3 separate regions of the Homo sapiens genome follow, and regions 1 and 2 are each linked to region 3. The links come from fine-mapping of genetic effects on gene expression. A gene starts in region 3. Each other region holds a variant in brackets. All regions are shown on one strand. Distances are from middle to middle.

Evidence for each region. PIP is the estimated chance that this variant, and not a neighbour inherited with it, causes the effect.
Region 1: its variant is fine-mapped to the expression of CPQ in whole blood (INTERVAL, PIP 0.95).
Region 2: its variant is fine-mapped to the expression of CPQ in Th1/17 cells (Schmiedel 2018, PIP 0.95).

The regions. Positions count from the first base shown.
Region 1 is chr8:97,044,803-97,055,233 of GRCh38, forward strand. The region is part of intron 6 of CPQ (carboxypeptidase Q); the gene reads left to right. All of the region lies in intron 2 of LOC101927066 (a long non-coding RNA gene), which reads right to left. Among named protein-coding and RNA genes, the nearest start is that of TSPYL5, 230 kb to the right of the region's middle. The variant G/A (reference allele first, on the strand shown) is at 4,314.
Region 2 is chr8:96,933,396-96,943,826 of GRCh38, forward strand. All of the region lies in intron 4 of CPQ (carboxypeptidase Q), which reads left to right. Among named protein-coding and RNA genes, the nearest start is that of CPQ, 290 kb to the left of the region's middle. The variant G/A (reference allele first, on the strand shown) is at 5,223.
Region 3 is chr8:96,640,397-96,650,827 of GRCh38, forward strand. CPQ (carboxypeptidase Q) reads left to right here and starts at 4,846. Exons shown (of 8, transcript NM_016134.4): 1 at 4,846-5,006. RefSeq lists a silencer at 4,721-5,270.

The DNA of each region.
Region 1 (10,431 bases), 400 kb after region 3:
TTCGTGAACTGCGAATGCTGCTGTCTGATCCTTCCTCTGGAATTTTTGTCTCAGAGGAGTACCCGGCTGTGTGAGGTGTCAGTCTGCCCCTACTGGGGGGTGCCTCCCAGTTAGGCTGCTGGGGGGTCAGGGGTCAGGGACCCACTTGAGGAGGCAGTCTGCCCATTCTCAGATCTCCAGCTGCGTGCTGGGAGAACCACTGCTCTCTTCAAAGCTGTCAGACAGGGACATTTAAGTCTGCAGAGGTTACTGCTGTCTTTTTGTTTGTCTGTGCCCTGCCCCCAGAGGTGGAGCCTACAGAGGCAGGCAGGGCTCCTTGAGCTGTGGTGGGCTCCACCCAGTTCGAGCTTCCCGGCTGCTTTTTTTACCTAAGCAAGCCTGGGCAATGGTGGGCGCCCCTCCCCCAGCCTCGCTGCCGCCTTGCAGTTTGATCTCAGACTGCTGTGCTAGCAATCAGTGAGACTCCGTGGGCATAGTACCTTCCAAGCCATGTGCGGGATATAATCTCCTGGTGCGCCATTTTTTAAGCCCGTCGGAAAAGCGCAGCATTAGAGTGGGAGTGACCCGATTTTCCAGGTGCCGTCTGTCACCCCTTTCTTTGACTAGGAAAGGGAACTCCCTGACCCCTTGTGCTTCCCGAGTGAGGCAATGCCTCGCCCTCCTTCAGCTCGCGCACGACGCACTGCACCCACTGTCCTGCGCCCACTGTCTGGCACTCCCTAGTGAGATGAACCTGGTACCTCAGATGGAAATGCAGAAATCACCTGTCTTCTGCGTCGCTCATGCTGGGAGCTGTAGACCAGAGCTGTTCCTATTCAGCCATCTTGGCTCAGTATTTCTTTTTTAAACCTGAATTATTTTCTGGGAGAGAGGCTCTTCCCAAGTGACCCAAAGATCATTAGGTCTTTGGGTATTCAGTAGCCCTTCTGGAAGTTCATCTTCTACTTCTGGTTACTGTGATTTTCTGTGCTTCCACGACACTAACACGTAAACATCAAAGAGTGGTCTCTCTAAGACAGCTTGAGGAGTGCACGAGCAGAAGTACTGGCAGGGCTGTTCATAAAGCCAATGCCAGAAAGCAGCTCCTCGCTGGCACATCCACTTTGTACTTTGAGACGCAGTATCCAGAAGCCAGGATGGGCAATACCCAAACTATGTTACTTTAAGGGCTGAAGATCAGGCAGGGAACTGAGCCCCAGAATTGTTAGACATTGTTGTGAGTGCAAAGTGAGCACTTTTGTCTTTCTTTCTGCTACTCATCTTACTTGATCATTCCTGAGTATATTAACCAAATCCTGTGGTGTCTTAAAGATACCATGTGTGCCCTGAGAGGCTGGTCTCGGTCTAGCTTTCTGATTTCCTTATCAATTGGGTCACATCTGTATTTTCTGCTGACTCACTTATGTGTGTAAAAAACACAAAGGCATACTTTTTTTTTTCCTAAGCAGATCGGAACTTCTATTCCTTTTTTTTTTTTCCAGAAGACCTCTCTCGTGTACTCTCATCAAATGCTTGTCCTACATTTGTAATTATTCATTCTAGAAGCTGAGGTTGCCCCTAGCAACCAGCAGTTTTGTCTAAACTGTTTTGGTTTCAGGGTTGTCTTAAAGGAGAGTTTCTCAAAATCCATTTCCAAAGAGCTTTTATACCCCACACAGCAAAACATGTATAAACAACAATTCAAATTTAGGGAGCTTAACAAGGCCTTTCAACAAAGGTTTAAAGTGGTTTCATCATATGATTTATTTAAGATTAAACAGAATTTCTGTTACTAGTTAAAACGGGAGTGTAATTTGCTTTTATGGATTCCTATAGTTTCATTTAATAAAACTCATCCAATCAGATGCACTCCCTCCCCTGTGAAATCAGAGGCAGTGCCATATTTGTAAATGTGTTTCAGGCAACTCTCCAGGTAGTAACTGAGGGCTGGAAGAACGTACAGCATCCACCTGCCCTCACTGCCATAGCTGGCAGTGTTTTTTCCCCTCCAAAGCTCTGGAAAATACTTTATTATAACTCACAGAGCCAAATGAGAGGCAATCAAACTGTTTTGTCATTTGAATTAGGAAAGGTCAAAGGGAAAGGAACATAATAGTAGACAGACAGAAAAGTGCTTTGTGAAAATTACCCATTTTTTCCACGTAAGGAAAAGTAATTTGTTTTTTTTCAGTGCTAGAGATTTTTGTTTTGATAGATTTACAGAGAGAAAAGAAACCACCAAGAATTTTGAAAGGTCCCATTTCCCAAACAAATATGTAACAAGTTCTTACCATTTAAAAGATGGCATTATAATCTCTTGCATCTATGTGATCATTTATAAATTACGCTTTCGTGGACATCAAGTCATTGATGATAGTAATGACCCTGGTGGTTGCCAGACCATGTACTGTTTTCCTTATTTCACACATGAAGAAACAGAGGCTCAAAGAAGTGAAGAATGTACCCAAGTTTGCATAGCACAGCCCATAAGGTGCAGAGCCTGAACTTGGACTTCAGCCATGACTTCTATGACCACATACTTCTCTGTCACCATCTTAAATGTAGATATCTACTAATTTGTCATAAACTGAAGGACATACATAGCAGCATATTTAGGAATGCTGGATAATCAGTAACATATAAATAGATGAAAGGAGAAGTTGCTTCAAGGTGCTTAGTTTAAAACACATATAGCATGGTATCAATTCTATACAATGGCCAAAGGATATTGTGTAACCATGCAGACATCAGTTGTCACTAGTAATTCTCAATGTTTTATATTCACACTTTCTTGGTATAAAAATAAATATTTGTATTTGTTCACGAAGTTAATTCTATAAATCCTGCTACAATGAGTTTTAAAAAAATAACCAACAACACTTCACTTCAGTCATCTGTGTAATTTTCCTTTAGTTTGGGGCATTTTCTAGGTAAAGTTTTAGCTAAACAATACAGAAAAATTAAAAAGTTCAGAGATCTTTTAATGATATGAAAAACTGTTTCTAATAATAATAAATGTTAAAATCATTTCACTATTCAAAAGACTGCGTTCAGAGCGGAGGCACCCTAACATACTACTCTAGGACATTTCTCACTGCCTTCATCTTCAAATAAAAGTGAGAATAGAACCCTAACCTTTGAGAGATGGAAATAATGCATGTATATGTCTGTTTTTATATCTTTCCCATGTGTATAGAGCTTAGACACTCTATATGTGAAGACCCTCCAAAAATCAAGTCTGGCTTTCTTCTTTCAGGATAACCATTCCCGAAACACCAAGGACAGGGATACATCAGAATGGACCCCTACCTGTGCTATATTTAAAGATCTCCAAGGATAGAGATTTTACGTATGTCAGTATTTTTTAACACTATCAGACAATGAGAATATTCCTGGCCAGGTCCACTTAGTGATTTCTTCATTGAAGGATACAATTTAGAAGATTGGAGGAGCAATTATAAAAGAAAGTAATACAATTTAGAAGATTGGGGGAGCAATTATAAAGGAAAGTAGCTGTAGGTCTCCAAAAGTTAAAGTCCCTTAATCCCAGTTGCCTTAGTAGTTCTTGCATGAAAGCACTAAGGAAGGATCAATGACTGGGAGATGGGATGAATTCTGAATTGCAAAAGAGACATTTAAATATTACTTGCAAACTAAACTCAAAGCACAAATAATTTAACACTGTTTTGTTTTAGTTTCTAAAAAAGTGGACTCTAATTCATTCTTTCCTTGTTCAGGAGATAAAACTATTTGTAACCTTTAACATGTTCTTTTCTTCACAGTTGAGAGCTCAGTTTGTTAATACTTTCTTTCCCAAACTGTTTTCTGAATGTATTGGAAAACTGCACCTGCCAGAATGGATTGGTGTTTGTTCTTCTTCAATGAAAGGTGGCTGTGATCAGGAGCTGCCCCTTTTAGAGAGCTTAAGCTGCCAAAGCCTAATACAACAGAGGTGGAACGGAAAATGAGAATGAAGGACATATTCAAAAATTTAACAAATTGTTGGTGCCTCAGGCATGAAGCCCATTGGTTTCCAAAGAATTTGGCAGAAAGATTTCTATCTTCTCATCTTGTAGGCAATTACCTTAATATGGCACACTTTTGTGATGGCTTTCATTGAAAGGCTCTGTTTAAACATCTTTTTCTGAATCACCAAGATAAGAATGGAGCAAATGAAGGGAAAAAAAATATTCACTTGTACACAAAGCTGCTACCTTCAATTCTCTGAAATTGTAGTTAATGCCTAATTATACTGACATTCCTATTGTACAAAAGTGTTGAGAATGCAAATATAATTTCCCAGCTAATTATTTCATTACATGGAAGTGACATGA[G/A]TGAAGTAATAAATTAGCATCGTCTTTATAAGAACCAGCAATTCTGGACTTTATAATATTGAAATTTTCAAGTGGAGTGAAGTGCTTTTTTCTTATGACTACTCTGATTAGGTGAAAAATGCCTTTTAAATTTATGTGTATAATACACCTCCTTCCTTCAGCAGATATTTTACCATTAATATAGGACAGTGATATTTATGTGAGTACATTATTACTGAGAAGGAGACCCAAAGGATGTCAAAGGGCAGAGCTGCCAGCTGCGACAGTCTGGCTTGTACTGCTTTTCTTAAATGTGGTTCAAAGCAATCAGATTATGAATTGCAGTGAAATAAACTTACTTTTATTTTTAAAATACAACCACCATTAACAGCTCCCCAGTTAGAACAACTGAATGTCAAATAATTGCATTCTCAAATTTAAACTAGAAAATAGTAGAGCTTGAGGAAGGGGAGTGGAAACTCAATAGTGACACATTGAGATGGGTTAGAAGGTATTCAGTTCTCCATTTCTTTGATTTAAGGATCGTCAATTGTTAGTGGTGCGATTAAAATTAATACAAATTTTCAGGAAAAATAAAACTACATTAAATGCACAGGGGTTTTTAAACTGACAATATCATACAGTGCCCAACACTTTTGTTTTTAGAATCAATCCATGTCTAAAATACCTTCAATCCAGAGTCTGCAGATGTCTCTGAACCCTTTGGTCATTAGCAGTGAAGCATTGGCATTAAGGTGCCAGGCCACTTTGTGTCACCCATGCTCCTTGTTTTGACAAGGTGCTAAAGGTGTACCCTTGTGGTTGGCAGCCTATTACAAGGCATATTGAACACGTTTTTCCTCTGTACTTTCAATTTGGCCAAGTTTTTTACACTTAATTTTTAATTTTAATATTTCTGTAAGCCATATAGCTTCTCCTGAAACTCTAAGGGAGCTTTTGGCAAATTGCTTAGTACCTGAGTGGGAGGCCTCCATGATTCATGGCTGGCTACACCAGTCTTTGCTCACCTTGAACACTCTAGAGTCTATTCTGAAGATTTGGCGATTTCTATTGTTTTTCATTGTTTTGCCTCACACATGAAAATCAATCTTCTGTGTACATCAAAATATAATGAAGAATTTTAATCAATAATTATGGACTGTAATTTAAAATTTAATGATCTGTGTTGATACCAGTGTAAATAAGTGAAGTGTAAAATACATTATCCAGGGCCCTTTCTGTGTGATGAAGTTTGCATGTGGACAAACAATGACAATGAATATATGAATACAATACAATGAATATGTTTGTTTATTTGCCTAGAATTTGGTAACTTTCTTATGGAATGCATCAATAACAAGATACATTCCAATTTCCAAAATGCTAAAAAAGGAGAATACTGTGATTCTTACATTTAGGGAAATATGGTATTTTATCTTTTGAATTTTATACTGGCAGAAACAGGAGATGCAAAAAATCAGAAAAACAAGCCAGACGTGGTGGTGCACATCTGTAATCCCAGCTACTTGGGAGGCTGAGGCAGAAGGATTGCGTGAGCCCAGGGTTTGTGATCAGCCTGAGCAACGTAGCAAGACCCCATTTCAAAAAAATTAGAAAAATTGTGCTTAAGTAGCCTTTTGGTCCTGATTTGCTTGAGAGTCCAGCTTGTACCCATTGTCCTGACATAATCATTAATAGAATCCCTTTTCACTCTCAAAAGTTTCCTGGCCTACATAGCAACTTAAGTAATGGTTACTCTACTTATTAGTCACTTTTGTTGGTAATAACAATGCCTCGAGAGAACAGAATAGCTTGGTATATTATAGCCCTTCAAATAAATATATTAAATTTATATAATCCTCAGAACAACCCTATTAAATAGCCCTTTCTTTTTGATGAGGATATGAAGCTCAGTGAGATTAATGGTTGCCAGGGTCATTTAGCTATTATGTGACAGAACCAGTACTCCAACCCACAGGTCCAGGGCAAATTAATTCCATTGAGTTTAATAATAATAACACTATGAATGATCATCATAATCACCATTACTACCTTACTAATAAAGCTACCATTTGCCCAACAGAGGTTCTTGACCATTGCTGTGCCACAGGCCACTTTGGTAATCTGGTGAAACCTATGGACCTCTTTTCAAATAATATTTTTGAATGCATAAAATAAAATGCATAGTATTACAAGGATATGAATTTTATTAAAATATAGTTACCAAAAATTTTAAGCTAAATTTGCAATATAGTTATATATGTGGTTTTCCAAATGAATTAAACAAGATCTTGAAGGATTATTTAATTATGACTATGATATCAAAGTAATGATGAACATAAAGAATACTTAGAGATTTCTGCAACAAGTCTAATGTGATATGAAAAGATCTATGATTTCTACCAGCAACAAAGTGACAGGTTTTGCTAATACTACTGAAGTTTGTTGCTTACATTCATAAGTAAAGAAAATTCTAAATTTTACATAGAGGTTAGTAAAAATAAAGATGTAATTTTTTCCCATTCAAGTTCACAGAGCTCATCCAAGTGTATCAACCCCCAAGGGACCCCGATTAGGACTTGCTGCCTTGGAATAAACCTGCAAAACAACTATTATTCCCATTTTACAAATGAGTAAACTGAGGCTCAGAGTAATTAAGTAACTTGCCTAATATTATTTACCTTATGGCTGAGAAGTGCATCAAATGGCATTGGCACTTGTACATCACCTCCTTTTGCTCCCCAGTGGCAAGCACTATAGAGGTGGGTATTGTAGTGTCCACCCCTCTCTGAGACTGACAACCTTTTCAGCATGGTTGCCCTAGTCACTTGCACATCCTTTAAACACCAATGATGCCCTTGATGGAGAACACAGATATCCAAAGAGAAACTGGAGGAGAGGTCTGAGTGTCTGACTAATGCTTTTTATTCAACCCTCCTTGAGGATTTCTAGTGTTCAGTATCCCGTCAGTGGTCCTCACATGGCTCCCCAGAATGATCATTATTCCCGACATATTTGCTGCTATTTTCTACCATAGCTATTTTCCTCTTCTACCTTTAGGTGATTATTGCTGCTACTTATTACTATTCTCAGATGAAGGAAATTGTTTTTCTTCACCTCCCTTAGTTCAATACAGGTACCTATTTGGATTTTTTCAGTAATTGCTATAATTCCTTAGCCTCTCTTTATCTAAACTATACCCATTAAATTATGTTAACTCTTCTCAAAGCTAAATTGCCTCATCTGTTTATTATTTTCCTCATCTTGCCTGAATATTTTAAAACTTACAAAATATGTGAAGCGATTGTTAAAAATCTAAGTAGTCCCAGGACACATTTATTAGTTACTGTAATTGAGTCTTACTGATTACACATGCATTATAAGCCTCATGATGTGCTAACTTTAGCACAACAAAGATACAGTTTTAAAATATTATATATTTAATATTTTTTAAATTCTATGTTGTCAGTTCAGTTACTGTTGCTCATCTCCTTCTCCTCCTGAGTAATGGCCAAGTTATTTTGGTGAGTCTAACATATGGGAGTCTCATCTTTGATAGCAAAATGATGATGACATATAGTCTACTGAGAATATATTCAGCCCTGTTTTCACCTGAGAAGGAGGAGATTTTGCCACCTAGCCTCCAAAATAAGAGCATCTTATTCCATTATTGAAGGGACCTTTGAAGTTTCACTTGTATTTTGATAATTTATGGCCACTTCTTAAAAAATCACTATCACTCTATATATCCTCCTGGAAAGCATTTGTTTTAGCACTTATAATGGATGTTGTAAACATTTGTATATTATTAAGTGCTTTATAACATACACAGTAAAGATTCAGCTAATAACTTTAATTGTGGAACTGTAGGTTTTCTTGAGAACATTTTTTTAAAAAGGAAAACAGATTCTGAAAAACTGATGTTATTTTATCACCAACATGAGTAACCACATCATCATCATCAACATAATCATTATCTTCACCACCACCACCATCATCCAAAATGGCATCTAGTTACATGCTCGCATGGGTTCACATATACAAATATACACACATATGTGTTTAAACACACACATACATGCATATATTTATTCATTCAGTCAGCACATGTTTACTGAGAGCCTACTAAGTGCCAGGCAGTGTTTTGAGGTCTGCCCTCATCTTGCTTCCATTCTAGTGAATCAAGACTGATAATAAATTGGATAAATAAGTAAAATTGTATGTTAGATGAAAATAACTGCTAAGGAGAAAAATAAAACAGGGAGCAGAGATAGAGTACATGAGGAGGGGGCTGTTTTAATTTTTGATAGAGGGGAACAAGGCAGACTTTATGGAGGTGGTAATATTTGGTTAAGACCTGAAAGGATGAAGAGGAGAGCCACGTGGATACCTGGAGGAGAGCATTCTAGCGAAGATGGAGAGTTGTTCCAAAGGTGCTGCTGGAGGCCATGCTTGACATTCAGGGGATAGGGAGGAAGCCAATGTGCTTGAAATGGAGCAGTGAAAGGAAAGCAGTAGGACAAGAAGTCAATATAAAGAAGCCCAGGCAGAGTCAAGCCCCATGGGCCATTTTCTCTGAGTGAGGTTGGAACTATGGGAGGCTTTTGAGCATAGGAGAAACATGATCTGAATCAACTTTCTAAAATAATCATTCTGGCTGCTTGGTTGAGAACAGACTAAAGGGGAACCAGAATGGAAGAAAGATAATAGCCTAGGCAAGACAAGAGTGTAGTTTGGAACAAGATGATAGCTGTGGAAGGCATAGCAAGTTGTCAGGCTGCAGATAATATTTTAAGGAAGGAGCGAACAGAATCTGATGGTGGATTGCATATGGAGTATGAGAGAAATAGAGGAGTCAAGCATAAACTGACAGTTTGGGGCCCAAACAACTGAAATGAGGGGAGTTAGGCAGGGGGAAAAGGGGGAGATAAGGAGTATGGGTTTGAACCTGTTAAGTTTGAGATATCAGACTTTCATGTGGAGAGGTCAAGTAGGCAGTTTGGTAAAAAGTATAGAGTTCAATGAATTGACATTTCTCAAAAGAAGATATACAAATGGCCAACAAACATATGAAAAAATGTTCAACATCACTAATCATCAGGGAAATGCAAATAAAAACCACAATGAGATACCACCTTACCCCTGGGAGAATGGCCATTATTAAAAAATCAGAAAACAATAGATGTTGTCGTGGATGTGGTGAAAAGGGAACTCATACACTGCTGGTGGGAACGTAAATTAGTATAGCCTCTATGGAAAACAGTATGGAGATTCCTCAAAGAACTAAAAGTATATCTACCATTCTATCCAGCAATCCCACTACTAGGTATCTGCCCAAAGGAAAAGAAGTCATTATATCAAAAAGACACCTGCACATGTACATTTATCACAGCATGGTTCACAATTGCAAAGATATGGAATAAACCTAACTGTCCATCAATAGATAAGTGGATAAAGAAAATGTGTTACATACATACCACGGAATACCACTCAGCCATAAAAGAGTGAAATAATATCTTCTGCAGCAACTTGGATGGAACTGGAGGCCATTATTCTAAGTGAAGTAATTCAGGAATGGAAAACCAAATACCACATGTCCTCACTTATAAGTTGGAGCTAAGCCATGGGTATGCAAAGACAAACAGGGTGGTATAATGGACACTGGAGACTTAGAAAGGGGGAGAATGGCAGGTGAATGAAGGATGAAAAACTACCTATTGGGTATAATGTATACTATTCGGGTTACGGGTGCACTAAAATCCCAGGCTTCACTGCTATACAGTGCATCCATGTGACCAAAAAACCACTGTACCCCTAAAGTTATTGAAATAACAAAATGTTTTAAGTATAGAGTTCAGGGGGGAAGTCTACAGATAGCCATAGGCATGGAGTTTTCTTCATATAAATGCTCCATCTGAATGGAAAATAATAGTTACCCTCTCACAACACCCCTGTCCCCCTGTCCAATGGAAGCTCAGCTTCTATGTTTTCAATGCTGTGATTGTTGGTTTTGCTCTCCAGGGAATATAGTGCCCTTAGAGGCTCTGTCTCTTCATCTTGAAGATCCCCTGGTCCTAGGGTCTGGATTCTCCACAAGCCTCCTTTATCACATCATCATGATCCTCACTGGAATCAGTCT
Region 2 (10,431 bases), 290 kb after region 3:
TGGAAAGTGGTCCTGTATCATCAGCAGTAGCTTCTTGTGGACTTTGTCACCCTCATTCATTCAACAATTGTTTACTGAACAAGTAATTGACAAGACATTCTAACACCGACAAGTTGTGTTTAATTCAGAGGAGGAGACTGAACGCTGGTGTTTCCAAGGCACTAAATAAATGCTAAAACAGGGAGAGGAAGCACACAGGGCAGAGGAACACTTAGGAGGAGCACCATACTATTCTATGGTGTGGTGGTCAGCAAAAGCTTCCTGGGGGAAGTGACCTTATCTGTAAAATGAAATGGGATTAATACCCATGTTGCAAGATGGAGCCAATGTAAGGTAATGTCTTTAAGTTTCCTGCTGCTTGCTTAGTAATAGCAGTGATGACCATGTGGTATTGATGGTGATGACAGTGATAGAGAAGAAAAAAAAATGGCTTCACAACCAGATAGTCCGGTTTCAAATCCTAGCTCTTCTTGTCCTTAGCTCTGTGGCCTTGAGCAAATCACTTGGCTTCTCTGTGCCTCATCTATAAAATGCGAATAGTGCTACGTACCGCTACCACAACTGTAATGATTGCAGAAAATGTTCACAAGGAACCTAACAGTGCCTAGCACCTGGAAGGCATTCAGTAAGAGGTGAAAATGCAACAGGAGCTTGAAGAGAAGGTAGCAGTAGGAGCCATCAGTGGATATGGAGGGAAGAGCTCTGCATGTGGAGTCTAGGGACCTAGATTCTCATCTGACTATCACTGAGAAGCTGGGTGCCCTTGGGCATGTCATGTCTGGCATTCTCTGGAGTCTCCCATCAGTGCAGAGAGGCCCATCCATGAATCAGGTAATTTTTAAGTGAGAGAAACACACAACAAGCCTAGGATTAAGGATGGTAGAGAGATTACTGTGTGTTGCTATGGCATGGGAAGACTTTGTGGAGGAGAAAGCCCTCGGGCTGGATGCTGAAGGCCAAGTAGGTGTTAGACTGGGGGAGCTAAGTGAAGAGGGCATTCCAGGCAGGGGCATGATTGAGCAAAAGGGGCCAAGTCACGCATTAAGTATGTCAGCCGCTTCCCTCATCTCCTCACCTCTGGGGCAGCCTTACTCGTGGAGAAGAATGGATAATAGGAAGGTCTTGACTTCAGCTCAGAAGTTTGTTTCTTTGATAGTCAGGACTGGTTCTGGGAAAATTGTCAAGTCATTGAAGTTAGTCTGTGCGACCATTCATCTTAATGTGAGCAACCCACGTTTTTTGCCTGCACATTGCTGCCACCTGGGCTAAACAAGCCCCCCACTCCCACCCCACTTTGCAAGCCTACAAAATATGCCCTGTAGAGCAGCTCCTTTTTGATTCTTATTTCCACCCTCCAAAGCATACCCAGAAGCACAGTATGTCAAAGCTTAGAGGGAGCTCGGAGTTCATTATTTTAAGCCCCCTTATTTTATTATGAAGGGCCATACCCAAAGATAAGCACTTACGGGCAGAAAAGGAACAGAGACAGATCATCACGGTCTCCCAGTTGTGTTCTTTCTTCCACTATGCAGCCTACATTTCTCTCTACCATACATTTTGATTACTTAACCTAGGACATCAATACCTATGTATTAATCAGGACTCTTGGGATTTTAAACGTCAAACACCTAGAGAAACTTGTTTGATAAGCAGGGAAGTTATTGGCTTGTGTAACTGAAGAGTTTTGGTAGGGCTGAATCCAGGTTTCCAGAAGATGTCAGGTGTTTGCCTCTCCTTCACAAGGCTTAACTTTTCTCAGTGTGGCTTCATTCTCAGGCAAGCTGCCTACAAATAGTGTCCAAAAGGCCTTAATGGCAACAGGCTTATATCCTACAAATAGTGTCCAAAAGGCCTTAATGGCAACAGGCGTATATCCTACCATCTTGGCATCCCAAGAAACATAGAGAAATGTCTCTGGCATAGGTCCTAGATAGGGTTTTCATTAATTTGGCTTGAGACATGTGCCTACTTTCATTGTGATGGGGTTATAGAACTGTGATAGTCTTAAACTAGGTCAGGTACCCACCACTGAAACCAAGACTCAAGGTCAGTCTCACCCAAACCATGGATGACTGTGGGGAAGAGGAGGTTCCCAAGAGGTTACCAGGTTTCTGTTTCCAAAAGAGAGGGAAATAGATGTTAAGCTAGTATGTGTTCACTCACCCACACATCACCCTCACACAACCCACCACAAGCTGATAACAGTTTAAGGTATTGTATTCCTGATAGCATTAGCCTTTTGTGAAGGACTGTACGTGTTTTAGTTGAGTATAACATGGAAATTTGGGGTACCATGGAAAGGCCAGTGAGGGGGTTAGAGAAGGTGGAGATTTTGTATTTCAGGGTTTTTTAGGCTCCCTCAAATTATAGCACAAAATATCTACTTTGTGGCATAGCATAAAATACTTTACTTATAAATTCTGTCCTGATGATAGCCAGGAACTCAGCCTGAGATGAAAAGGTTTCCATTAGTGAACCACATGTAGACAATTGTAAGTTAATGCTAATTCATTATCCTCACACCTGGGCTTTCCAAATTTGTCTACCTCTTTTTTTTTTCTTAACCATGTATTGCTTATCTTTCTCATGAACATAACCAATGTCTTATGAGCCCAAGTCAAGTAGTGAACATCAGATAGGAAATTATAATTTTGTGTATATTCTTTCCCTCATTTTTGTGGCCTTTTTGTGTAGTTCTCTTGTGCCTGGAGAAAACTCAGGGTTTGTGTGTTAAGAATGAAGTGCTTGCATTCCCTCACCCAGATGCAGTGCAGCAATGGGGTACAGTGGGACCACATTGGAAGGAGGTAAGATTGGTGGCAGGTAGTTAAAAGGTAGCATTGTTTACTGTGGGTCTAATGCAGTATTTCTGGACTGAATGGAATGGAAGTTTTGCCTAACATCTTTTAGAAATTGTTTTCAGGTCTGTTTCAATTCCTAATGTTCTTTTATATAATTTCTGACTCATTTGCTTAATGGTTTCATTTGTGTTTAAAAAAGCAACATCAAACCTTCATTATTTACTTTCCGTGATGCTTTAAATACCACAGAATTCAGTAAGGCCATCAAAGAGACAGAGAGGCCAACATTAAACATTAATTTTTATTACTTTGGCAAAGAATTCTTGAGATAATTCAGCACAGAGGAACCAGTACAGGTCTCTGATAGCTGTACCAAGTGCTGATTAACTCAACCTCACAAAATCTCTTGCCTGTCAACAATTAGTGGAAACATACAGAAATATCTAAATATCCCAAAGATATTGGGGAGATATTTGGAAAGTATATGAAAACATTTAGAAACATCAGAAGTTTGAAAAACAAAGTTTTCCACATATATGAATGAGACTGGGGAAGGGAGTATGGTCTGTTTTCTTCTCACAATTTTATCACCCTGGCAGTTATTGGTGGAGAGAAGGTTCTCAGTAAGCATATGACGTATCTATTACTTTATCTTTACCTTGATTTCTCCATTCCCATAGCTTTAAAAGTCATTAGAGGAGATAAAACAGGGTCATTTATTTTGTATTGTCATATGTATGGATTTAGCAGCATGTGATATCTTTCCTTCCTTCCTTCCTTCCTCCCTCTCTCCTCCCTCTCTGGGTATTCCCTCCTTTCCTTCCTCCCTTTTTCTTTCCAGTATTTAATGACTCCTACTCTATGTCATTGTCTCTTATGACTGAGAGATGCATAAGGCTTAGTCTTGCCCTCAAAAAGCTTACAGTTTTTTGAGAGGTTACACACAAGTAAATGGGCAATTTCAATATAGTATAATAAATATTATGATAGAGGAAGTACACAGTGCCTTTGGGTCATTTAAGGAGAGCACTTAAACTCAGGGAATCAGGAAAGCCTTGTCAGGGGAAGTGCCATCTAATCTGAGTTTTGAAGGACAAGTTGAGTTAGCCAGAGCTAGTTTTCTATGGCTGAGTGGGCCAGATGGGAGGAGCCTGGACCTGAATTTAATCTCCCTGCTGGGGTAAGGCAGGTGTCGGTGGCCACCCCCAGCTTCAGGTGCTCAGATAGAGTCCAGTCCAGTAGTCATAGCATGGTAGCCAAAGGATTTTGCCTTGAGTTCATAATCAAGAAACGCCTCCAGGCCCTGGGGAGCAAGAGAGGAGATAGTAGTACTGGAAGTCTGCCAGACCTTAGACCTTAGGAGAGACACTTGTATGAACATGGTCAAGTGAAATTCTAGTGTCTGGAGACCATGACACAGCTCAGCCTGCACAGGGCTTGGGACGTGAGCTTTGTATGCACAGTGCAGTCCAGGATCCAGCCGACAGTCCAGTTGTTGCCTATACCCGCAGTCAATTGCCATGTTTTTTAGGAAGCCTCTGTCGAGCGACTCTAGAGGTGTTTCTCCCTTCCCTCTTATTACTAAACCTTACAGAAGCTAAGCTTGCTTCTAAGATATCTTTTAGGTTTAATATTCACAGGATTACAGTGTCTGCATTCCTTAGACGCTCCTATCATGCTGTGCTAGTCGGGCACTGTGCTAGGCACAGGGAATGTTGAGATAAAAGGAAGTTGGTTTGTTGTTTAAACTACCCAGATTGTGCATTGTTAAAAATTATTATTTTTTTGGAACTCTTAAAATTTTGTTTTGCCCAAAAAATTACATGACACTTTCCTCTTAGAAATAAGTTAGTTATATAATACAGAAATGTAAAGGCCAAAACATTAATATTTTCCTTCTTTAAATTCTAGCTTCTTTCACCAGCGTTAACAACTGATAACCTTCTCTTGTGTATCTTTTTAGTCCATTTTCTATGCTTGCATATCCATATATAATTGTATCAGTTGAGATTCCAGTAGGAAACAGATGGTACATTCAAATTAGAATAATTTAGACCGGGTGTGGTGGCTTATACCTGTAATTCCAGCACTTTGGAAGGCCAAGGTGGAAGAATCGCTTGAGGCTAGGAGTTTGAGGCTGCAATGAACTAGCATGGTGCCATTACACTCCAGTCTAGGTGACAGAGCAGGACCCTGGTCTCTAAACAACAACAGCAACAAAACCAAATTAGGATAATTGAGGTTTAGTTTAATAAAGGGACTATTTATATGATGTAGAGAGGGTATAGGGAAAGCACAGGGGATCATGATTATCAACCCTAAATCTGAAGGGGCACAGAGAGGAAGTGGTCATGGAAACCTGGACACAGAAAGGGTGCTGCAGAAAGGACCCTCTAATGGGCACTGAGACCTGTGATGGAG[G/A]GATGCAGCCAGTTCTTAGCAACCACAGGAAAGGGGCTGGGAATAAATGCACTCCTTCCTCTCTGCTTCTAAGCGCCCCCATTGACTGAACCCTATGGGAAGCCAAGGGAACAAGAAAACCTATTGATGTAGTCCATATAGGTCAGCCCCCTTAGCCAGAGAGCTGAGTGGAGAAAGGTGGAGAGTGGATCAGAGGGGCAAACAGAAGGTCTCCAGTACAAATACATACATAGCATATAGTTTTAGGAGCTTTTACTTTCTGTGCTTCCTTGTTACAGAAATGAGATTGTGCTGTAGTACGATTCTGGGACTTTTTGTTAACACAATTTGTCTTGAAGCCTTTTTGCATCAGTATGTATGGATCTAATTTAATTATTTTATTCATTGGCTGCTTAGTATTTCGTCATACAAGGTATCTGAACTTTTTAAAATTATGTATATGTAATAGTTGGTATATACAACAGAATATGTACCACCTATGTGAGTTATGAAGCCTAGCAATAAAACAGTCATCTGTAAATTTATCTCTCAACCTAAGATCACTAATACCATCGACCTTAGTCAATCAAACTACTTGACCTCAGATCATCAGGCAATCAGGCATTAGTTAGAATTACCTAAGGAGCATGCATGTGCAGTTCACAATAGGGTTTGGGTTTCTATGAGAATCTAATGCTGCCACTAATCTAACTGACAGGAGGCAGAGCTCAGGCAGTAATGCTCACTTCCTGTTGTGCGGCCATATTCCTAACAGGCCACAGACTGGTACCAGTATGCTAGCTGGGGGTTGGGGACCCCTGCTATACAGTCTTCCTGTGTCCCCTCACCCCGCCAATGCTAGTCTGAAGTTTTTTGTGTTAATTCTCTTATACTTTTTAAAAATAGTTTTTCCATATTATGAGTATGTTGAAACAATATATTATATAGTTACTTTTTAAAAAGCTTTATAAAATTGCCGTTTTAGTTGTACATAGTCTTTTACAATTTGCTTTTTTAACATAGCATTCATATTGCAGTGTGCAGCTGTGCTTCATTTATTTTCATAGCTTATAACACTCCATTGTGTGAATATGCCGCAATTCACCTCTCCATTCTACTGTTGATGGACTTTTGGGTCATTTCCAGTTTTTGCTGTTTCAAACAGTGCTGCTTATGAACATTTTTGTCCGTGTCTCCTGGCACATACATACAAGAGTTGCTCTAGGGTATATACCTAGGAGTGGAATTTCTGGGTCACGAGGTTTACACATACTTGGCTTTGCTAGGTAATGCCAAATTGTTTTCAATGGGATTATGCCAATTTACATTCCCATTAGAAGTATGTAAGAATTCTGGTTGTTCCTTTTCCTCCTTAGTGCATGGTATTTGCAGAAGGCTTAACTTTTTACCATCAATACTCTTTTCAGGGATACCAAGCAAAAACTTAATGAGAGTCTGACTCTGTTATCATAATAAATATTTTTCTACTTTTCTCTGTAAAAATGATTTTCTCTTTCTTGCCCTATTTTTTTTGCCTCATTGTTCCCTAAGTTTATGTCATCTACTAATAAATTATATTTAAAAATAATTAATACATTAAAACAAATCTGCCAAATGGGCCTTTCAATTCTTTCCAACTCTAAAATAAATGTAATTCTAGTAGAAATCCATATACAAATCATGGTTCATAAAACTGAAGGTTAACATTGCTACCATATGGAGAAGTTAGCTCACATACAAAAAGAGAAAACCATCAGTTCTCCAAATATTTCTTTTTACCAAATTTGACTTTAACAGCAAACTGGATTGTGTGTACTCTTGAAAGGAATAGTGCTCCATCTTGCTCTCCCTCTCTTTCTTCATCCTTCCTTAGTTTTGTTCTTTCTTTCTTTGCTTCTTTTATGTATTCATTCACTGATTCACTAAAACCCAGTGGAGAAGACAAATGAATTATTACTGTGTAGCCTGCAAATGGGATGATGAGGAATGGACAGATGTCTTTTGGAGTGAGAGAAGGAAACTTGACTTCTGTATTTCTTGAGTTCACTTCAGTTCTTAAGATAAAGTAGGTTCTACTGAGTATTTGCTAAATGAATGAACAAATCAATACTCTAAAATGTTTTCAGCTTTTTACTCATTGTAGTGTAGGAAGAGCTACATGGAGTTGAATTTCTATCAACTAGCCCATCTTTTATTACTGGAGTTAGTCTTCTTTGGTAATTTAATACTCAGAGTACCTCATATGATCTCTTTATCGATGCCTTCAGGAGACATTAAACGTTCTATCAATTAATTATACTTAAAAAGAATACCTTTTGGATTCATTCAAGCACTTCATCTTCTTTCCCCAAATCTTGGGAACTGGTGTCAGCTCCTTAAAATGAGCCAGCATGCTTTTTCACCCTCCCATATAAGTAAGAGCTTGTAATCACCCAGTGTTTCTCTGACCTAGAAAAGCTGAGAAATTCACATAAATGAAAACACAGGGGCTTACAAAATTGCTTTCGGCCCTCTCCCTTAGAAGCATATCTGGCACTTGGTAACTGGCTGGATGGAATGTGGGTACTACATGGAGTGCCCTGGTGCTGCTGCTGCTGCTGCTGCTGCTAGGCTTATATAACTTTGAAATCAGAAAGCAGATTCAGTGGGGTAGGGGAGAACTGCTTTTAACAAGCTGCTGGGATTGGCTGAACTTGTGCTGGCCTTGCACTCTTACTATTATAAACTTGATGTCTTTCTCATTTGTAAACTTTATTTGCATGCCAGAGCTCAGCTGAATTTGCCTGGGTTCCTAGTTTCTTTAATCTTTTGTCCTGACTGGCTTGCATGTAAATCAGCTTCAGACTTTCAGCTGCCCATATATTGCCCTAGTTTGCACTCTATAAAGAGTTCTTTCTTTGTAGGCTCCTGTCCAAAGCATGGCAGTATGTCTTAAAACTGTACAATATGGTTACTATTAGTAGTAATGAGTTGTTATTGAGTGTCAGTATGAGGTTGAGTAGATGGAGCAACCAAGGCAGCTTAGAACTGAGGGTTTCCCAGCTAACATGCTGTGGAACCCTGGAAAATTTGCCAAGCTCCTCCAGGTCTCCTATTCCATCCTGCCAGAGGTGATGTTTTTCTTTCCTGCTAGGTATGTCATGAATATAACTGAGAACCATGATTCTAAAACAATTAGAATGAAACTTTGTGATTTTATTTGATGAGATAAGCACTGTTTTCATATCTTTACATACATACTGCGTTGTTAAGTCCTATTGTCATAACCATGAATTAAATGTAGTCATTTTTATATTTTTAAATATAGCAATGCAAGAAAACTGAACTGATAGAGTGATAATAAGGCAGATAAGTGAAAGAGGAAGGTGTTTAGCCATTCAAGCTACTGCTGAAATAGTGAATCTCTTTAATGGTAATATATGAGCTGGAATGTTTATCCTTATCCTTTCCTCTAGAGAAGATTAATTTATTTGGCAATATCTAAATAACTGAGAATGGTATATTCCTCATTCATAACTTAGAGAAACAATTTGGCTACTTTTGTTGGCAGAACCTGAAATAGCATTGCCCTTCCAAAGACTGTTTAACTTGATTTCACAAGTAAACCACAAAATGCAATTATTTGATATTTTACCATATCCCATTCCCTTCTTTCATCCCCATAATGCAGGGGGCTGAGTTTGGATTTGCAAACCTTACTCCTTAGCCTAAGCCCTTACAATTGTTTGTATGTAATGCCAGATGCATGTTAAGGAAGGAATCCTATAGAGGCAGGTTACTTGGAGCGAAGTTTTCAGGGTGGCCAGCTCTGCCCAGTTGCCTTCTTTGGTCCCAGCGAGATTTGTAGTTTTGGTTTCTCTGTTTGAGGCTGGGTTGGGTGCAGGGACCAAGCAAATGAAAAACAGACCCTTGGGGTATAAAAGAGGTGAGACATAGGTCAAACAACCTATGGCTCCTCTAGCTGATACAGAAGATCCATCACCAACAACATAGGTTTATGGCTCAGTCCCATGACCTGGGTGGAATATCCGGAGCAGTTCTGGAAATATACCATCCATTATAATCATCTGAGTGCTTGATTAAAATGTATATTCCTTTAAACACAAACAACAAAAACAAAAACATGTAGATTCCTGGGACCCATGCTCAGATTCTGATTCACTAGATCTGGGGCGGGACCCAGGAGTCTGCACTGATGCAGATGTCACAGACAATTCTGATGCTGGTGCTCTAAGAGCCACACTTGGAAAAATTCAGTTTAGTGCCTCTTTGTCATTCTTCCCTTTGGCTCCTTGCCTTTATTTCAGGAAATAACTATGAATATGACTTTCAATGTCACCTCTAGGAGCTGCAGCCAGACATTCCTATGATGTACTTATAGCTAATCTAGTTGAGCTCCATTTGAGAGGATTCTAGATATATTACTTACTAGAGATCTGGCTTTCTAGAAGGCTCCCACTGGATCCAGGTAATGTCCAGTGGCTTGAACGATAGAAAGCTGGAGTCAGCAGCTGGCCTTCCAGACCCATACAAATCCTCTTTCTTTGGAAAGCCTCTAGCACTTCACTGTAAAATAACAGATAATCCCAGGCCAGAATTTTAATTAGAAAAGCTGAATGACCTGTAAGTAAATTATTAAGAATTTCAATATCAGCTAAGATCAATGGAACAGAACAGACAGCCCTGAGGTGCATCTGTAGATGCGTGTACACAATAATTAAGTTTGTTATAAAGATCCTATATACTATTTTCTCTGTATGTAATGGTGGGACCTATTTTCATACAATCCATAGATACAATTGAAATAATACAAATAATACAAATCATTGATAACTGACTACCATGGGTCAGGCCTTGTTCTGCACGATTTCTATATATTCTGCTAATACTCATAATAAGCAGCACTTTAAGTATTATTACTCTTCTCCTTTTATAGTTAAGAAACCAAGGCACAGGGAAGCTAAGTAACTTGCATAATGTTGCACAGCAAGAAAGTAGCAGGCTGGTCCTCTTGGTTTATTTAAGTTAAAATGAAATAATGGAGGAAATTAGGAATCTGAAGAAACCTCCATTTTCAAAAGAGTAGAAAAATAGATACCTGAAGGGCATCGTGGGGTCATAACATAACAACTGTGAGAAGTGTTGTAGCTTTTTGTATGTTTGTGAAATTTTTCAAAAATGTGTCTAGGTACAGTAGTTGAAGCTTCTAATGCATATTGGGGTTAATTCC
Region 3 (10,431 bases):
AAAAGGATCTTATTTCTCCTTCACTTATGAAGCTTAGTTTGGCTGGATATAAAATTCTGTATTGAGAATTCTTTTCTTTAAGAATGTTGAATATTGGCCCCCAATCTCTTCTGGCTTGTAGGGTTTCCACTGATAGGTCCACCGTTAGTCTGATGGGTTTCACTTTGTAAGTAACTTGGCCCTTCTTTCTGAGTGCCTTTAACATTTTTTCTTTCATTTAGGCCTTGGAGAATCTGATGATTAGGTGTCTTTGGATTGATCTTCTTGTGGAGTATCTTACTGCAGTTCTCTGGATTTCCTGAATTTGAATGTTGGCCTGTCTTGCTAGGTTGGAGAAGTTCTCCTGGATGATATCCTGAACTATGTTTTTCAACTTGGTTTCATCCTCTTTGTCTCTTTCAGGTACCCCAATCAGTTGTAGGTTGTCTTTTTACATAATCCCATATTCTTGGATGTTTTGTTCATTCTTTTTTATTCTTTTTTGCTCTATTCTTGTCTGCTGGTCTTATTTCAGAAAGATAGTCTTCAAGCTCTGAGATTCTTTCCGCCACTTGGTCTATTCTGCTATTGATACTTGTGATTGCATTGTGAAGCTCTTGTGTTGTGTTTTTCAGCTCCATCAGGTCAGTTATATTCCTTTCTCACCTATTCTTGTTATCTGGCTATCAGCTCCAGTATTGTTTTATTATGTTTCTTAGCTTCTTTGCATTGGGTTACAACATGCTTCTTTAGCTCAGGAAAGTTCGTTGTTACCCACCTTCTGAAGCATACTTCTGTCAGTTCAGCCATCTCAGCCTCAGTCCAGTTCTGTGCCCTTGCTGGGGAGGGGTTGTGGTCATTTGCAGGAGAAAACGCACTCTGGCTTTTTGGGTTTTCAGCATTTTTGCGTTGATTCTTTCTCATCTTTGTGGGCTTATCTACCTTTAATCTTTGAGGTTGTTGACTTTGAATGAGGTTTTTGTGGGGTCTTTTTTGTTGATGGTGTTGTTGTTGTTTTGTTTGTTTTTCTCTTAACAGTCAGGCCACTTGACTGCTGCAGTTTGCTGGAGATCCGCTCCAGACCCCAGTTGCCTCACTTTTTCCTGTATCTGGAGGTATCACTAGTGAAGGCCACAAAACAGCAAAGATGGCAGCCAGCTTCTTCCTCTGGAAGCTTCATCTTGGGTGGTTTCTGATCTGTTGCCAGCCCTCATACACCTGCAGCAGGTGGTTAGAGACCCCCATTGGGAGGTTTCACCCAGTCAGGAGGAACGGGATTAGGGACCCACCCAAAGAAGTAGTCTGGCTGCTTTTTGTAGAGCAGGTGTGCTGTACTGGGAGTGGGGGTGGGTGGGGCCCTCATAGTCTGGACCACCTGTATTCTCCACAGCTGGTAGGCTGGATCAGCTGAGTCCACTGAACCATAAAGATGGTGGTTGTCCCTCTCCAAGGCAACCTGTCCCAGGGAGATATCAGAGCTCTCTCCATAGCGCCCTGGCTGGAGTGACTGAAGCTCCTGCAGGGAGGACCCACCCATGAGGAGGAATGGATTGGGGTCCCACTTAAAGAAGCAGTCTGGCTGCAATTTGGCAAGGCAGCTGTGCTACATTGTGGGGGACCCTTCCTTGTATGGTCCATCTGTATTATCCACAGCTGGCAGGCTTGAATGGCTGAGTCTACTGAACTGCAGAGATGATGGCCTCCCCTCCCTCCAGGAGCTCTGTCCCAGGGAGAGATCAGAGCTCTGTTCATAAAACAGTTGCTGGAGGGGCTTAAGGAGGTCCTCTCTAGCGAGGAGGAATGACTTGGGGTCCCGCTTACAGAAGCAGTCTGGCTGCTTTTTGGTAGGGCAGGTGTGCTGCATTGTAGCAGAGGGAACCCTTCCTAGTTTAGACCGTCTGTATTCTCCACATCCAGGAGGCTGCAGCAGCTGAGTCGGCTGAATCACAGAGACGGCAGCTGCCCCACCTGCTGGGAACTCAAACCTGTCTCAGGCAGACTCCTATCCACTGCCATTGGCTGGCTGGGATTCCAAGCTGGTGGGTCTTAACTTGTGGGGTGTCATGTAAGTGGGGCCTGAAGAATGGTATTGCTTGGCTCCCTGGATTCAGCCCCCTTCCTACAGATGGATTTCCTGCCTTGCTGATGATTGTGGCCAGAGTATGTAAAACTTCTGGGCCTCTTTGTATGTGCCTGAGTGGCTGCTCTGTCAAGACAACACACAGCTCTGTGTATCAGACTCAAGGCCCTGGTGGTGTGGAGTCATGAGGGGGTCTCTTGATCCACAGGTTGCAAAGATTCATGGGAGAAGCATGGTTTCCTGGGTTGCACAATCACTCACCACTTCCCTTGGCTGAGGGTGGAGGTTCCTTTGGCTCTGTGCTGCTCCGAGGTGGGCTCCCCACCCTGCCCAACTTTTCTTCATTCTCCATGGGCCGGTGGTTTGCCTAGTCAGTCCCAATGAGAGAACCTGGATATTTCAGTTGAAGGTACTGAATTCACTTGCCCCTTCTCATTCCTCCCTGAGTGCTGCGGGCAGGGGCTTCTAATTGGCCATTATGGATTGATCTCCCTGCAGTGAAGTGTTCTAAGTAGGAAGAACACATGGTATTGTGGAAAATCAACATAGCATGGTGGCTCAGAAATAGATTCTGGAGCCAGGCAGGTTGCTTGGTTTGGAATTCTGGTCCTGCAACTTACTGCAACCTCTCTATGCCTTAGTTTCCTCACAGTTTAAAGAGGGATAAAATAATATCTATAGGTCTATTTGCGAGGTTTTAAAATTCTTGGAATAGTACCTGGCTCATTATACATGCTATAGAAATGCTTATTCAATTAAATAAATAAAAGCATCTTTGGTAAGATAACTCTGAACATTGTATGGTTTAGTAGAGGATGCTGACAAGAATAAATAATTAAAACATATCATGAAGTAAGCATAAAAGATAGTGGTAATGCAAAGATGCGAATGAGCTCTGCTTCCTGTGATTAGTGTGAGCAGACAAATTCACTGTACTCAGAAGCTTAAAGCCTAGCGTGGGAAGCTGACATGAATGAAAACCAACGGGAAAAAATGTTAGAGTAGAGGTGTAAGCAAGAGTGATTAATTTCAACTTGAAAGCAAATGGGGGAGGTTTCACAGAGAGGGGCCCAGCATGTTGGTTGATTGCTTGGGCTCCAGAATCAGGCCAGCTCAGTTTAATGCTGACTTTGTACCTCACTGGTTTTGTGACTTGACCTCTCTAATCCTCCATCTCCTTATCTGTACAGTGGGGGGAAATAATAATGATAATAATAGGTAGCTCATAGGACAAATAAGAATTCACAGTTAATGCATCAAAAATCTTAGCACAAGGCACTCAATAAATGTGAAGCTTTTATTGTTATTACGAGTTGAAACTTGAGTGGGAAAGAACTTCGTTCACATTAAACATGAGAAAAGGCCCAGAAGTTGAAAAGCATTTGACATAATTAAAGAACAGCAAGTCAGTGCCACTTAAACGGTAATCCAACCACCGCCAGTCAGTGAACAGCTTTTTACTGCTCCATGAACAGGTAAGTATAGAAATTGTGAGTAAGCATTTAGAAATAAAAACAACAACAACAACCAATAATTGAAAAACTAATTTTATACTTTTTGGCATACTCATTGTACACTTGTAATAAAAACTGGGCTTGTAGTTTTTGTCTCTTTTCTTATTTGCTAGCAGGTTTTGATTTGTATTTTACAGAAATAATGGTCCATGTCAGATTGGAAATAATAAAAACTTGTCTTTTACCCTTGATAGTTTGAGAAAAAAGTAATTCAGTGGGGTTAGATATGGCATCCGAGAGATGATTCGGGAAAGGTGGGCCAGGGCCATGTTTATGTGGACCCTCCAATGCCTCAGAGTTCACACTTGTTTCAGTGGGCAACAGGACTAGTAAGGTTTAGAGGGACTGTTAACCGAAGGTGAGTGGACTTTGCACATTTTATGGTATTTTTTTTTTCCCAGTAGGCATGTGCTTATTCTTTCTTTTCTTTTCTAATTAAAAGTTCTGTTTGGTTTTTTTAGTTAAGAGGAGAGACTGGAACTGCTCAGTGTTTCACAAAGATAACTGTTTGTATTTGATAAGAGTTTCGTTAAACAAAGGAATTTGCACTTATCAAAACATAAAGCATTGAAAACACTGAGCACATACTCTGTGACCAGAATGCGTGTGACTTGTTGAGATAAGCCACACCGGGTAATCAGATGAGTCTCCTTTCTTCTTGGGCACCCTCATATAATTCAGGCACAAACGAAAGAGAAAACGCTTTTTCTGATCTCTCAGTTCGGGTCATCTCTGCCTTCCATCATCACCGCCTAACAATCCTACACCTGGCAGGGTGGGAAAACGGTTTAATAATCTCTTCCCTTTGGGAGGCGTTTGACAGCTCAGAAAGCATGGCCTTTACTCAGGCTCAGAGACACACAAAAACCTTTCACGTTTTCCTTTCAGCTTCGCAGCCCCGTCCTTCTCCACCTGCACGGGCACCCACTGAAGCACAGGACCCTTCTGCCAAGCCATGAGCCTTCTCAGGCCCCTGCCGCCCGCCTCGCCTGAGGCTGCGCTTCTGAAAAGCACGCGGCCCTGGCCTGCGCACCACCCAGTCTGAAGGCGACGCCCCTGCACGAAGGAGTCAGGCCTAGGGGCTCGGGACCCAGGGCGACACTCAATTTTCTAACAGGAGCCACAGCCCAGAAGCTGAGAAGCCTTCCGGCCGATCTGTGGCCCTGAGGTCGCCCTTGGAGGGCGAGTGAGAACCCCCCAGGCGTTCCGGAGGTGGCCCCCAGCCCGAACCCGGCGCCCGCCCCGGCTTCCCGAGTCAGGTCTTTGCCCCGCCTCTCGGCCCCGCGGCCTGGCCGGCAAGCAGGGCTGCAGTCACGGGGCGGCGCGGAGGGCCCCAGCCCAGTCAGGGGTGTGGCCGCCGCCACCGTAAGGCTAGGCCGCGAGCTTAGTCCTGGGAGCCGCCTCCGTCGCCGCCGTCAGAGCCGCCCTATCAGGTGTGTTTGCAGCCGAACTGGCAGTGCCCGCGGGCGGCTGGGCCGAGGCCTTGGCTCCTACCCGCGGGGGTCGGGCGGGCTGAGGCTGGAGCAGGCCAGGGGCGGGGGCAGAGGGGGACGGACTTCCAGCATCGCTCATTCGGGGGCGTGACGGGAGGACCTGGCTGGGGAGCGGCGGGTTGGGAGCCTGTGGCTGCCCCTTCGGTGACAGTGGAGTCACCGAGCCTAGAAATGGGGAAGCTGTGACGTGGGGGTGGTGGAGGGTGCTGCGGGACAGCAGCGAGCACGGCCCTCAGCCGTCCTTCCCAACACGGTTTCACTTCCCCTCAGCTCCAGGGCTCAGCCCCAAGCCGCCCCCTTCATCCCCCATCTGCAAACAATCCTGGTCCCCCTGAGCCTCCAATATGCCTTATGCAGTTCTTTTGGGGTTCCTTTCGCATTTTACCGTGTACTTTCGCTTTTGATGCGTCTAGTTTCTGCTACTGGACTCTCCTAGAATCGAAGTTCCATGAGGGCAAAGTCCCATCTGACTTAGGACTCAGAGCTACTCAATAAGTAATTGAATGAGTACCTATGCCGTAGAACTGAGTGAATTAACAAATGAGTAAGTGAATAAATGAGTGCATACGAGATACAGCTGAATCAATCAGTGCATGAGTGAAAATAAAGATGTATGAAGTGGAAGCAGTGGAGACGCAGGCTTACAACTCCTGTTTTTTGATAGCTTTCCAAAAAGTTGTGTGAATGTCGCACTTTTGCAAATGGAGGCATTCTGATTGGGACCACTTAAAAAGAGTTCTATGCTGTTCAAATGGTCTCTGGAAACGCCCCCTGGTATTTCCATTTTTGTTGGACTTGGCTATATGTGTTTGCTTAAAACAAAATATGCCTAGGTTTTTTCTTGCTTGTGTTTTGTTCACTTCTACTTTGGACGTTTAAAGAATCATTGTCACTATAATATTATTTCATGTATTTCTTAAAGATAAGGGTGACTCTGAAGGCAGAACCATATGACTCTGACTTGTTTGTAAAACCAGGCTTTTCTTTTGAATTCAGAGTTGTTAAGAATCTTGTCTGTTTTCCTGAGACAGGTGCTGGCTGATTTGCAGGTGACTGAAGAAGGCTACATAAGGCCCAGAAAGACGCTTATCTGTTTGTAAACAAATAGGCTTAGCACATAGCTTTAATACAGTTGGTCACTGCAGCCGTTCTTACTTGCCAGGTCCAGGTTCCAGAAGAGCTGGATGACCTTGGACTTGCCACTTGATCTCTTTAGGTTTTAATTTCTTAATCTCCAAAATGAAGATGTTTAGCTAGGAACCCTGCCTGAGTTAAACCTCTGGGATTCTTTTGTATCAGGGTTAGAAGGTGAAATTACAGATGATTTCATGGAGTTCTGCTTACTTCACCTCCCATAGCATTTTGTCTCTGCTCTCTTCTTTGCTGTTTACAGCTCATTTCCTTTCTTCTCCACATCTGCAACAAGAAAGCCTGGGAGCTCAAGATAAGTGTAATAAACCCTAGGCTGGTGGGGAGAAAGGAGGGTAAGATTTTCTTCTACATTGTCACAGGCTCCTGGTCCTGGGTCTGACTTTTTTCCAGTGCAACCCAGTCTGACAATGCCATATATTCCCAGTATATCTGGGGAACTGCATCACTATTTCTTCGCATGCATTTGAGATTAGTTATCATAGATCACATTTTGGAGCTGGAAGGACCTTGGAGATTTTTTAAAGGCACTTCAAAAGTCATTATACATACATATTTAAATATTTTTGCATGCTACATTTAACAAACACAAAGTTCCAAATGTGTTAAGTAAAATGAAATTAATGTTACCTACTTCAGTGAATTCAAGTTTATAAGGAGAAGTGGAATACACATGTTGCTTGGTGAAAAGGGCCAACTTTCTCACACTGTTTTCCCAATGAGGTCATGTGTCATACAGGCATGGAATGTTACAAAGCTGATATTTATGGGGCACTGACCATACACCAGGCACTGTTATATTTAACCTTTTTACTTATATTGCCCCATTTAATCATCACTATATATCTAAGAGCTAGATACTATGGTAAGTCCTATTTGATCTTCTTAACTAGAAACAGTACATGGAAAATGGGAGAGTTAGGACTCAAAACTCAAGCAGATGGAAACAGGGTTTCTCCCAGAAACAAGACAATCCTGCCAGGAAAAACTGTGTGACTTTGAAGAATGTGGTCTCTGTGTGTGTTCAAGCATATATACAAACCCTGGGTTATTTGGGTAAATGAATTTAGAATGAGAGCACAGGGTGAAATGATGAAGACTGAATTATAGGGGAGTTGGTTGTTTTATCATTTTGAAAATTATTGAATTCCATTGAGATTCCAGGAGACTCTGATACTTTGACCTAGGTGCCCATGCATCTTAATTTTAAATGTGTTCAGACTTACCAATTTAGGGAATATAAAATGAGTGACATCGACAGCTGCCATCAGTGAATGGCACTTAAGGGCTTTGAACCATGAGTGCTAAGCAGTGTTGTTTCTTGGACTAGCTTTGTGCCCTTGGTAAGGCACTGCCTCCCAACCTCTTTCTTTATAAGACCAACAACCCCTAGTATAGACAAAGAACAATGCCTACATCTGTGTAATCCAGAGACAAGAATGCAGGATGGGTTTCCAGAACCCTTATAATTAATTGAAGAGAGCAAAAGACGAAAAGAGAGGCCCATAAAATAAATGGGAAATTATTTTGTTTCTTTTTCGTCAGCCAAGTTTAGCCCCATGGAAAGCAGAGACCAGTTGTGGCCGCCTGAAAAACTAAGAGCTGATGCCAGTTTGATTTAGCTCAGGAGGCTGAAACTTTCTGCCCCGAAGGCTGGTGTGATGGAATAGACCTTCCCATTGCTCACAATATTATGAAAAAAACATTAAAGCAACAATTTTTATTACTTGCCCTGCAGCTAGAGCTTTAAAATGTACTTTCTTCTCCCCTACCCTCCCTAAACCACTTAGCTTTTAAAAACAAACAACCCATTCATGTGTTTGTTACAGTCACATTATTAGTTCTTTCTCTTTATTCCTGGGCCCTTTTCTTTAATGCAGCAAAGTATTTGGAGGGATGTACTTGTGGATCTGTGGAATTTTACTTTATTTTATTCAGAAAATATTAATTTCAATAACCATTTATTGAGTGTATACTATGTGACAGGTAAAGATGAATGAGAACAAATCTAAATAGGAGAGTGACCCATCTGCAAACAATTGCACCACAGGGTAATGTGGAAGTAGTGGCCACTCACTCTTCCAGGAAAGAGGTATGATTGGAACTCAGGAAGACTTTGCAGAGAAGGTGAATTTTGAACTGTGTTTTAAAGCCTAAAGACCAAGCAGAGGGAGAAGGGTATTCCAAGAATGGAGAACAACAAGAGCAAGGAAAAGGAGGCAAGTATGAACATGGCATTCTTCAGGAGATGGGAGTTCAGTGTGGCTGTGGTAGGGAGGTGTGGTAAGGTTAGGGCCAGACAGTGATGGTCCTTGAATGTCATGTTATTTAAACTTTATCACAGTCTAGATAATCCTTTTCAGCATTATTTTTGTTTTGTTTTGTTTTGAGGCAAGGCCTCTCTCTGTCACCCAGGCTGGAGTGCCGTGGCAAGATCTCACTGCGACTTCCGCCTCCCGGTTCAAGTGATTCTCCTGCCTCAGCCTCCCAAGTAGCTGGGACTACAGGCACACACCACTACAGCCTGGCTAATTTTTTTATTTTTAGTAGAGACGGGACTTTGCCATGTGGGCCAGGTTGATCTCGACCTTCTGGCTTCAAGCTATCTGCCTGCCTTGGCCTCCCAAAGTGTTGGGATTACAGGCATGAGCCACTGTGCCTGGCTCTTTTCAGCATTTTTAAGCTGAATTTTAAACAGAGGAATGATATGATTGGATTTTCCTTAGAAAATAGCTACAGTAATAATGTTTCAGAAGAATTGGGGAAGGAAGAGCCAGAAGGCCACAGGAAAATGAAGATGCTATTGCCATAGGTCTAATGAAATAGGATAAGGATCTAAACTAAGATAGGTTTGAGAGACTATTTGAAGACAGAGCAGGATTAATGACTAGCTGGAGCTGGATATGGGAAATATGTTTGAAAATAATCTGAGGTTTTGGAATTGCTTAACTGGGTGAGTGGAGATGCCACTAATGAGGGTAAGAAATATAAGGTGAGGAAGAAGTTTCGGGAGAAAGACGGTGAGTGAGCAGAGGTAGCTGTGGAACATCTGGGTGGAGATCCCAGGATATAGCCTTTTCTGTAGCTGTGCTGTGATGTCACACAGTCAAGACCTTGGCCAAACATTACAATAGGGCCTCAGTCTAAAAAGACACATCAATTTAATAACTCACTTAAAAAATACATCATACTTATCTAATGACCATTACATTATATTTCAGGCAAGTTATTAGAGAACTCTGATTCTTATGTAAGTGCCAGTGAAGGAAAAAAGATTGGAGACTCAAACAATGAGGAGTTATTATAAGCTGCCAGGAGAAACTGAAAAAGAGAAATACAGACCAGAGTCATTCAAAGGAACAAAGATAAGGAAATGGCAGGAGTGTTGCAGAAAGCAGTGGTTTCTGAAGACACAGGTATAGGCAGATATGAAATACAGAGAAGAAATTTGAGCTGGCGCTTCCAAATAACTGTACTTCTTTAATGGTAAGATATCCCAAGCTTTGATTTCTCATCTTATTCAGTTTGTCAGGAAGAGACAAACAGGTGTGGGTGCTGGGCAGAGGGCTTGATCTCATTTTGCAGAGAAAGTGTTTGGAGACTTTGAACTAAGCAAAGAGTAACAGGGAAAATAAGATAAAAATGAAAAGGGTAATGATTCGGAGAAATTTTTCAGAGAATTTAAGGAATTCTATGACAAACAGGTGTTAAAGAAAAAGGCAGATCAACGCAGTGTTCTCTTGATATAGTGGTATTAGACTTCCTTGGAAAAAAGATTCGCATAGCGCCTTATATTTAAAAAGCAATTTTATATTTGATTGTTACAAGAACCTAGGAAGCAGGTGCAGCCAGGCATTATTATCTTTCTTTTATAAACTTAAAATCTGGCATGAAGGAGGCTGCAGTTTGTTTCATGGCTCAGACGGCTCAGATCCCATGGCTGGCAGGGACTCAGAGCCTTCTGACTTTGGGTCCATTGCTTTGTCCATTGTATCAACGCCTTGCCTTACCTTGGAACCTTGGCCTTCTGCAGTGTGCCTCCTTCCCTTATCATATCATATCACATAAATGTAAAAGTAAAGCAGATGGTATTTGAAGACCAAAAGAGCCAAGATCTCTGGGGAGACAGGCAGTGATGTGAAAGGATCCTTAGCACTGATTATGCTATATACAATAGGGATGTTCATGAAGAGTTGTGCATAGAGTGTTATCTACG